Regions from separate parts of the Homo sapiens genome. Here region 2 is linked to region 1. The links come from fine-mapping of genetic effects on gene expression. A gene starts in region 1. The other region holds a variant in brackets. All regions are shown on one strand. Distances are from middle to middle.

Region 1 (5,364 bases):
GGCCATGCACCTGGCTGCTGAGGAAGCCCTGCAGAGTCCTGGCCACAGGGGATGGCTCATAATCAAAGGCCCCCACCGCCACATCAACTGAGCACTCACTCCATGCCATGCACTGGGCCACATGCTTTGCACTGATTTTCTCCCACTGAACCCACAAGGAGGTAGAGGTTACTGACCCCACTCTAAAGATGAGGAAACCAATACATTAATTGACTTGCTGGAGGTTGCATGGTGCATTAGTATCAAAGCATATCTAGAATCTGGGCTGTCTCTCAGGTGCCAGGTTGGGCAGAGGAGACCTGAGCATAGCCAGGTGGGGGACCCCTTCCCTGTGCAAGCCCACGGCTTAGCAGAGAAGGAGCCCGCCCCAGAGGGCAGTGGCTCTCATCACAGACGCAGCTACATGTGTGCTCTCTCTCTCACCTGGGGGATCCCTGTCAAAGACCCGCAGGCTTGGGTTCAGAAGGAGAATCCCCAGACAGTTCCTCTCCTATTCTGGTAGGAAAGGAACAGTTGGAGCACCCTACCCAGGCCACACAGCCTCACTTCAGGAAGCCTCTGGAGATCCAGGGAAGATGAGAATCAAAATTCAAAGAGCACCTGCTGGCACTTAAGGCACAAACACAGCCTTGTAATGCAGAGGTGGAGAGGCCAAATGACTCTGAGTAAAACACAGGAGACTGAGCTTTTTGGGGTCCTCAAACCCCAAAGTGAGAGTCTAGAAATAAGCTCCACCACAGAGCACCTGTACCATCACCACCCCAAACAGGACAACTTCCGGGCACTGTGCCACGCAGGGAAACAGTGATAACCAGGCAATGCACGCCTCGGCCTACCTCTCAGAACCCACCTGTGTCTGGTTCCTGGCCTCTGCTGTCCGCTGGCTCTGGCAAGCATATGTGTCTGTGCCCCCCAGGAGCTCACAGCCAACTCCATTCTGCCCAGGCACTTGAGCGGCTTCCCTGTGGCTCCGAGTCTTTTGTCTGGGAATGTCGGTTCCCATCCCCGTCTGTGCTCTGCTGGGTCTACCTATATGTCTGTCCACTTACATGTCTGCCTCCCATGTGGGGAGATTCAGATCCCAGCAATGGTGTATTTCTATGTACGTGTCTGCAGCCCATACGTGGCCCACGCTGATGGGTTCATGTATGTCTGTCCCCGCACATGTCTGTGTCCCTGGGTTGTTTGCTCACCCCCACCATCCTCCTGTGTCTGTCCTCAAGTATATATGTATCCAGCTCCTCTACGTCTCTGCCCACACAGATGTAAACCTGAGCACACACACGCACTCACGTCTCTGCCCACACGGGGCATCCCCCACAGGTGCCTGGGTAACCCAGGTCTGTGCACCACCTGTTTGGAGGCAGGCAAGTGTGTTCACACAAGTTCTCACAGTGCCAGCCAAGGGCTTCGGGTGAGCTCAGCAACTCCCACTCCCAGAACTGCACCCAAGGCCACGAGCATGAGCACACTGCCACCTCCACGAAGTGCTCCAGAAAAACAGAAACCTGCCAGGGACAATGAGGGAGGGGGCAGGGCCCCAGATACAGCAGAGCCTCACAGAAGTGAGGTCAGAGCTGTGCCAGGAACCACCCACCTCAAGCCACCTGGGCCCTACTGTGCCCACCCCCAACACTGGCCAGGAAAGGGAGGGGGGTGCATGCACCACCTGGGGTCTGTCTGCACTCATAGGAAACTGGCCCAGTGCCTGCCAGCCTCCCGACCTACCCCAACCCCCCGCGACAGAGGCTCTTCAGAAAGGAAGTGAGGACTTCCTCCTGCTTACCTCTGAACCTCCTACAAGGCTGGCTCTAGACCCCAAACCCCAGGAGCCACAGGGCAACTAGGAGTGTCCTGTGCTCAGCCCAAGCCAAGAAACCAAATGGGTTATTTCAGAAATCCACCAGCAGGAAACAAACAAACCTGGGAGTGGGTGGGGATGAGTGCAGGAGAACCTCCTCAGCGCCCCTGCTGCTCCCTGCCCTTGGAGCAAGGTAATAAGGAAGGGCGGGCATGGAGCTGGAACATTTCAGCACATTTGCTTGCTTGCATGGAACTGGATCTCTGCTGCCCTGGCACTCTCGCAGCCTACATTACTCACATAGCAATTAATGGTGTGTAGCCTCTTGGCTTTCCACTATTACCAGTTCAGGACTGGTATTGAAACCCTGTATCGGGGAACTTTGTGTGTTTATGTCCTGTCTTGCCCCCAGGGGCTGAGCCTCCTGAGGACAGAATCCTCCAAATCCTCCTCCATCCACACATTCCAGGGGCACGGCCCAGTGCCCTTCCTGGCATTTAAGAGGTGCTCGGCCACTGGGTTCAGGTTACTCTACCCAGAAGCCAAGGAGTTGGTTCCTGGGCCTCTGGCTGGGAGAGTAGAGATGCCCAGAAGATTCCCTGGGCCATGAAGCTTTACTCCCATCTCTGACAACCCAAGAGAAAGGGCTCCAACCATCCCGGCCACCTTCAGGAGCCGGGTCTCCCATAGGCCACTCTCTCTCTGACAGGTTACTGCCCCTTCAGGAAAACCCTCTGAAACTGAAAAACGTACTCTCCTTGGAGACCCGGGCCTACAGAGGAAGAGGGCCAGACTGGGCCAAGAATCAAAGCCTGTGCCCGCTGAGACTTCTGGACTCGTCCTGGGTCTGAGGGCCTCACGCCCCCTAGAGATGAGTCCCAGGACCCCATCTCGGTCATGAAGCGGCTTCCCTCTCCCCAATCTCCCCCTAACTTCGCGGGAAACCCTAGCTCCTGGCCATGCTCCCAGGTCTGGCAATGAAAAGTGGAATTGTCACCAGGCCATGCCTACACCAAACCCAGGGAACTCGGGAGAGGGGGTAGCCCAGGGTCCAACACACACAACCACCCAGCAACTGCTCCCTGTGAGTCCCTCTTGCCTCCCAGGGACCAATCCTGAGCGGGTGTGGGGTGAAGGCCCAGGACCTCACCTCTCCAAAGGATGGGGAGTTGGTGTCTGGAGCAGCCTCGGGCTGGGGGGTGCCCGGGGGATTCCAGATTTGCCCTCCCCTCGCCAGCCCCAGGGCAGGACACTTCGGTACCTGCCAGCCCGCGGCTCCGGGGGGCATCCGTGCTCCTGCGGCCGGCGTGCTGCGCCCGAACTGCGGGCGCCGAGTCAGGCAGCGACGGGGCGCGCCCGGCGCGCGCTCTGGCTCCAGCTCGCTCCTCCCAACTTCGCCAGCCCATGCGGGGGCAGAGGTGGCTCCGGAGGTGGGCAGGCCAGGCGGACCCGGCGAGGCCACGCGAGAGGGAGCCCGTGCTCACCGGCGACGGGACCTGCGCGCCCCGGCCCGTGCGCGCCGCGCTGCTCCCCAGCGCCCCGCTACCCAACGCCGAGGGGCGGACCCGACCCGGCCGCCAATCACCGCGCCCGCCCCCGCCCGGACCGCGAGTCCCGGCCCCACCGCGAGGGGCGGGGGGCTCAGATTTAAAGACACACTCAGCCCAGCCGCAGCCCCCGGGCGGGAGGAACGCGGGCGCCACGTTCCCCGGCTGCGCTTCCTCCCTCCGCCCGCCCACCCTCCGCGAGGAGGAAAAGTTTGGGGCGGGGGAGACTGCCCGGGAAGCCAGTTCCTCTTCCCTCGTCGCTAGTGCGGCTCCTTCTGGAAGACACCCAAACCCGACATCCAGCCTCCTGGCTGCGAGAGGCAGCAGCGCTCTGGGCGCCACACCCCGTCCCGGACGCCGGCTACCCGCGACACCCGCTGGCCCGGCTTCCCTCGCCCCCCTCTGCTTTACAGCCAGGCCGAGCCTCGGCGGGACCGAGCCCAGCATCCGGGCTCCGGGCCGGCCTCGCTGTGCAGTGCGGCCGGAGCTGGATGATGGTGCGCTCTGCACTTTTGCCTCCCACGTGTCGAAGGGGAGCCCCTAAACAGCAGACGGTCCCCCCAAGCAGGGGCTTCTCCCACGCCCCGGGGTCCTAAGGAAACGCGCCCCTCGGCCCCCAGAGGTGAGAGGGGAACAGCAGAGCAGAGCTTTGGATGGAGAGGGGTCCCTCCGCCCCCACCCATCATGCGGCTCCAGGCAGTGACCCGCACCATAGGCCTGCCCCCCCCACCACTCCTCACCCCACACGCGCGGACTAGCACTAGGCGGCAGCCAGCCCGGCCCACTCCGACGGCCCCGCACGCCCCCGCGAGCACGTGGGTGAACGCACCCACGTGCGTGCGTTCACTCTTCGCTGTGCTTCCTCGCGGAGAGATAGGCTTTGTTGTGGTTGGTGAGTCACTTCCTCCCTCTCGCTGCTCCACACTCGGGAAATCCTTTTTTCTCACCTGTTACCACCTGCCTCACCCCCATTCAGGACTGGAGCTGGATTTCGGCGAGCTGGGGTTGCCCCAGGATGCAGGCAGTGTAGGCCCCACCTCTGTCAGGCTGGAGAGCGCTGGGCTGGGAGAGGGGAACACATTCCCCATGACCCCTAAGAATAACTGAAGACAAGAGAAATCACTCATTGTGGTGGTCTCACCATGTCCCTAGCACCTAGCTCTTAAGTGCCTCGCGAAGTTATAAGGTCGGTACTTTTCTGATCCCTATTTTAACAAATGAGGAAACAGGCCCAGGGAAGACTTGTCCTCAGCTCCATACCTGCTCCTGCGCCACCCAAGGTGTGTGAAAAGGACAGCAGCAGAGAAAATCCCATAGTGGCCTTGGGAAACAGACCTGACCTTCAGAGTTCAGCAGAGCTAGGCTCAAAGTGGCTCACAATTTACTGGCTGTGTGGTCTGGGAAAAGTGACGTAAGTTCTCAGATTCCCAACTTCTACATCCATAAGATGGCTTCATCCTCCTTCAAAGAGGTATTTGAGAAGCCAGTGAGCTGGGCAAGTAATGTCCAGGCATCGTGTGTGGCACACTTTAGGACTCCATCCTGGGCCACAGTTTCCTTCCTTCTTCCTCTTGCCACAGCCCCATATCCCATCCCACCAGCTGTCAGACTCCCCAGCTGAAGCCTGCCATCCTGAGGATGCATTCCAGGATAATGTCCTCTTCTAGGCCAGGACTAAGGTAGGAGCAACATGTGTGTGAGCAGGTGCAAAATATACATTTACATACATGTGCATGTGTATGCACACATGTATACACATACATGCACATATATGTATACAAATATATACATAAACATGCATACCTATAGGGATGCATGCACACATATATACATACAGAAACATAGCACATACACATATGCACATAATACACACATACAAATACACACACTTTGCTTCCCCTCACCCTCCCTGCCCAGCAGATGCTGGGATCCACGGCGGTGTGCCTCTCTAGCTCCCAGAGAACAAAAGCTATGTCCTACCTGTGCCTGACCTGTCTTTTGGCCCACAGCACAGTG
Region 2 (5,364 bases), 51 kb before region 1:
CCTACATACAGGTACACACACACAAACACATACACACACAGACACATACACACACAGAAACACATGTATCCCCACACAGAGACACACAGACAGGAACACACAGACACACAGAGAGACACATAAACATGTACACACACTCCCCACAGACACACACAAAGGCGCTGACACACACAGACATATACAGAGACAGACACCAACACACGTCCACCCTAACATGCTCACATACACAACACAGAATGAAGCCTTCCTCTGAGGAAGGCGAGAGGCTGTGCCCACCCTGAGCACCTCCATGGGGACGACTCTCAAGACTCCTCCCCCATGCGCGCCCGTGCCCCAGTTACCCGGAGAACACTGACAAAGGCGTCCAACTGGGCCTCCAGGGGACTCCCTTGCTCGGGCAGGGGCAGGCGGTGGTACCTGCCAGGTGAGGGAGAGCAGCCATCAGGCAGGCACCCACTCTGGGAATCCCCCTCACCCCCTATTCCCGGGCACTGTTTGGAAATGGGCCCCACTGTGGGAGACATGGGTGTGGGGGACTCCGCCCAACCTGCAGATGGTGAAACTGAGGCTGCAGCTGGAGAGCAGGACCTGGAGCACCCATGGCCAGGGCTGGGGGTGGCCCTGTGGTACCTGTAGGTGGGCTGCAGGAAGAGGGGCCGCTTGTACACCTCCTCCGTCACATGCAAGTCGTCCTCACCATGGATGGCCACAGCATGGGGCTCCCCCCACAGGTCCTCGGTGTTATGGTACACATGGTATGTGTTCTCGCTCAGCTGGGCAAAGTCGTGGATCTAGAGGGAGGTGTGGGGGTCAGAGGGCCATGGCCTGAACTTCAAGACCCTCCCTGAGTGTCCTGGCTGAGCTCTGGAGTGACCAGACCATGCAGAGGCCACAGGCAGGCTTCTGCCCCCCATGAGGGAACTACACAGCCAGAAGTGCTCTCTATGCCATTCCTGGGAGTTCTGAAGGAATCGGGGTGCCTACACAGGGGCAAGGCAGGAGGGCTCTGCCCAGTGGGTGCAGGAATTCACAAAGCCACCAGTGCCAGGACGGGGGAGGTGTGGTCAGCTGGGAGCTGGAGCCGAGGGGAGCAGAGCACACAGGAGGCCTGGAGGGGATGGGAGAGGCAAAGAGCTGGGCGCCGGCATGGCCTCGGTTCCTGACCTGGAAGTTTCTGGGGACACTGGGACCCCACACTCTATTCACACACCTTCATGGTATGTCAGCTGCCTCAGAGGCCTCCACAAGCCTCTGTGTTATGGAGGAGGAGGAGGACAGAGGATACTGAAACAGGCCCACAGACCCACTGAGGGAACTGACTCAGAGGCTCGTGGCTCTCAAAGCGTTGAACTGCAGCCTTGGTCCTTCTGGTCTAGCGCTCTTTTCACTCACCTAGAACCCTTTCTTTTTCTTTTTCTTTTTTTTTTTTTAGAAAGAGTTTCACTCTGTAGCCCAGGCTGGAGTGCAGTAGTGTGATCTCGGCTCACTGCAACCTCCGCCTCCCAGGTTCAAGCAATTCTCCTGCCTCAGCCTCCCGAGTAGCTAGGATTATAGGCATGCGCAAGCACGTCCAGCTAATTTTTTGTATTTTTAGTAGAGACACAGTTTCACCACGTTGGTCAGGCTGGTCTTGAACTCCTGCCCACCTCGGCCTCCCAAAGTGCTGGAATTACAGGTATAAGCCACTGCACCCGGCCCACCAGACCCCTTTCTAAATAAGGACATTGAGCATCAAGGAGACAAGCAGGGTGGGAAAGGGGCAGAGGCAAAGAGAGCTAGAATAGGAAGTCCTTCCTCTGGCTGCCCGTGAGTCAGCCTTGCAGCCAGCCACTCACCCAAGCAGGGCACAACAGTGGGGGAACACGGGCCAGTAAGAGCAGGTGAGCTGGCCCCAAAAAGAGCATCTGCAAAGCTGGGCTGTGGGCTGGGGTCTCCCGCACACCGCACTGGTCCTCACCTCTTTCCGGATGGCCAGCTCCAGGCTCTCCACCCGGACCCCGGGTCCAAGGCCCTGGAGGTTCTCATGAAGGTTCTGCTTGTCTCGAGGTGTGTAGGACACAAAGTCCTCATCTGCACGCAGGAAAAGCACAGGTTCCTCCCGCACACAGAAGATGACACACTCCTGCCAGGAGCCCGAGGGGGAAGGAAGCCATCATCATGATCCCGCACAGACACCTGCACCACTGCCCCACCTCAGGGCCTCTGCCCAAGCTGTTCCTTCCTCCTGCACCCCACACCATCCCTGCAACCTGAATCCTACCCAAGAAACAAAGCTCAGTCCAAATGCTACCTCCCTGTGACCCTCCCAGTCAGCAGTGACCCCTGCCTCCTGTCAGGGTCAAGAGTCCTTCATATGAATCTCTTGGCGTTAATTCCTGCTTTGTACTATCAATGAATGCATCTTTTCCCCCTTAATGGACCACAGGTTCCTCGTAGGCAAAATCATGTCCTGGTCATTTTCATGTACCCATAATTCCTAGCATGGTGTCCTAGCATGGTGTCCTGGATAAATCAGGTGTTTGATGAACATCAGCTGAAGAAATGAATGCCCCATGACCACGCAATCATTCATTCACTGAGCACCATACAGGCAGAGGGAAATGTGTGGGCAGATGGTCCCCTTGAGGAACTTATCATCAAGATGGGAAGATGGGACCTGCACACAGCCCACACCCCCACCCCATTCTGTCTCACTCAAAGCCTTTCCACCTTAACTCCGGGGTCAATTCAGATGCAGCTGCACTCAAGAAGCCTACAATCGCAGCAGACCCTCAGCCTGTGTCCTAGGGACACGCAAAACCCTGCCTCAACATCCGACAGGTAAGAACAGTCCTTGAAAGCAGGCACTTGGGAATTCAGCTGCCTGGGTTTGGGTCTTGGGGTACCACTCATGAGCTGTGTGACCTTGAGCAAGTCACTTAGCTTCTCTGGGCCTGTTTCCTCCTCTGCAAAATGGGAGACAAACTGCCACTCCATCACAGGGCTAACATCAGGACTTAAGTGTTAGCTGTGATCACCATTCAGCAAGCTGTCAAATTATGAGCTGGCTCCTCCTGTCACCCGGTCACGCCCCCTGCTTCCTCTGAGGCTCCCAAGTAGGGTCTATGAAGGCTTCTGACCTTGTGCCCCGCCATCCACTCAGGACATGCAATCAACATTCACCAGAATTTCCCAACCAGACCAACAGCAGTGACCATCCTGGCAGGCAGGGCCTGGTCCAGGCCACTACCCCACCTCTCCAGCATGCAGCAGGCCCCTCCAGCGCCTCTAAAGCTGCCCCTCCAAGGTGCCCCTCTCCCTGGCTTTGGGGACCTGGCTTCTGCCTGGGAAGTGGCATACTTACCCTATGTCCGTCCTTCTGGAGTTTCTGGAGGACCCGCCTGAACCCT[G/A]AGAGGCTGGGCTGTCCCATGCCGAACACAGTGAGCCCACCCTGCACCTGCCGGAAGTTGGGGGCCCCACAGCTTCCCACGGTGCCCAGCACATCCATCTTCTCAGTGACATCCCGCACCAGGAAGTAGCGGCCCTGGCAGGGGAGAGCCACAGGAAGGTCACTCAGATGGCTCAGGGGTATTTTCTGCAGATGGAGCTCTGTCCTGGGCTCCAGGGGACAGGGAGGGGGGAAATAGGGGCAAAAAGAACATGATCCTGCCCTCAAGTTGCCTGCAGTTCATGGAAAAAACAGACAAAATATATAACTCTCTGTGATCTGGGGAAGGGTATCATAAAGTGTAGGAAAAGGAAAGACAACTCCTCCAGAGGGGACATCAGAGAGGGCTTCATGTGGGAGGTGACGTCTGAGCCAGGCCTGGAGGAAAGAGCAGGGAGAGGCTCTCCAGAGGCAAAGCTGGCTCTAGGGTAGGAGCTCCCCTGGAAGGGGCTTTTGTAGGAAGGCAGAGCTGGGGCACCAGGAATCAACCAGAGGATCACGGTGCTAGCTCCATCCTAGGGCCCTGCCCGTTCTGAAAATGGGCAGAGAGACGGGGAAAGTTGGGGAGGGCCAGAGGGAGGTGAGGGAGGGAATTCATGAGAGATAGGGGTGGGAGGCAGCAGGCGGGCTGGCAGGGTAAGGCCTGAGCTCACTTGCACCAGGTAGTGCTCAGGGGTGTTGTCCGAGAGCCGGCCCAACGTGTAATGAGCCTTGAGCAGCTCATCATGGATCTGGAACTCCTCCTTGCAGTTGTACCTGGGGGGGGGGGGGGGGGGCAGAATGGAAACTGAGTCAAGCAACCTCCTTGGTCAAGGCCAGCTCCACCCTCACAGAGCCCACCGCAGGAAAACCCCTGTGGCTACGATTTGTGGCAGAGACTGCCCATTGTCCCTCAATATCCACTCTTCCCTTCTTCCTCAACACGACAGCCCCAGGGCTGTGACTGAGGACTGAGCCACCCAGCTGAAGACTACATTTCCCAGCCTCCCTTGCAACTCATTGTGGTCACATGATTTAAGTTCTGGCCAATGATGTGAGGAAAAGTGATGTGCGTGCAAATTCCAGGCCATTCCCAAAGAGAAGAGGTGCCTTCTATTTTGTCTTCTCCCCTTCTGCCTGGCTAAAATCCAGAAGTGATGGCAGAGGTAGAACATCTTAGATCATAAGACGGAAGCCACATGTTGATGATGTTGGAGCAATGAGGGAGAAGGGGCCTGGATGATCACGGAGCAGCCATCCCAGCCTGGATGTCCTCGTGGACTTGCATGTAAGAGATGAGCTTCGTCCTGAGGAAGGCATCTTATCTGGGTTACTTTATGACAGCGGCCTAGCCTGTACCCTGAAGAAGACAACATCACTGGATGGTCCCTCCATCAGATTGTATTGGAGGGACAGTCCCTACACTGCTAACTCCACACACAGTGAGGTGGTTTAGAACGCAGGCTTGGGGCATGAAGCCCAACTCCACCCACCGCTTGGTAACTCTATAGCTTTGGACAAGGAGCTCATTTCCAGGAATTCCTACCCCCAAGACTGTCCTGAGAATTAAATGTGCTAATGATTGTAAGTGCTTAGCCCAGTGCCTGGGGCACAGTAAGCATTTATTAATATAATTGTAGTTCTACCTCCACACAGGGCTATTTCAAACAAAACCCACAGATAAAAATCAAGATTTCTGTAGATGCTAAACCAGGTAAAAGTCCAAACACTCAAACAAGATTTACTGTGCCCTCAAGACACAACAGCTCCAGTGCTGATGATAACAATGAATATGACAGAGCCTCCCAGAGTTAATGATCTGATGTTAGGTCCTCTTGACAAAAGAAGTGCCTTCATATACACCATGGAATACTATGTAGCCATAAAAAATGATGAATTCACGTCCTTTGTAGGGACATGGATGAAGGTGGAAACCATCATTCTCAGCAAACCATCGC

The links. PIP is the estimated chance that this variant, and not a neighbour inherited with it, causes the effect. A credible set is the group of variants that fine-mapping cannot tell apart.
Region 2: its variant is the best candidate, but not a certain one, in a credible set for the expression of PALD1 in skin (TwinsUK, PIP 0.68).

What each region holds. Positions count from the first base shown.
Region 1 is chr10:70,476,758-70,482,121 of GRCh38, reverse strand. PALD1 (phosphatase domain containing paladin 1) reads right to left here and starts at 3,355. Exons shown (of 20, transcript NM_014431.3): 1 at 3,063-3,355. RefSeq lists enhancers at 741-1,382, 1,560-1,739, 1,383-2,025 and silencers at 3,020-3,469, 3,670-3,739.
Region 2 is chr10:70,528,048-70,533,411 of GRCh38, reverse strand. It overlaps PALD1 (phosphatase domain containing paladin 1), which reads right to left. Exons shown (of 20, transcript NM_014431.3): 3 at 4,081-4,183; 4 at 3,344-3,523; 5 at 1,958-2,122; 6 at 631-791; 7 at 342-417. Among named protein-coding and RNA genes, the nearest start is that of PALD1, 52 kb to the right of the region's middle. RefSeq lists an enhancer at 3,758-4,675. The variant G/A (reference allele first, on the strand shown) is at 3,390.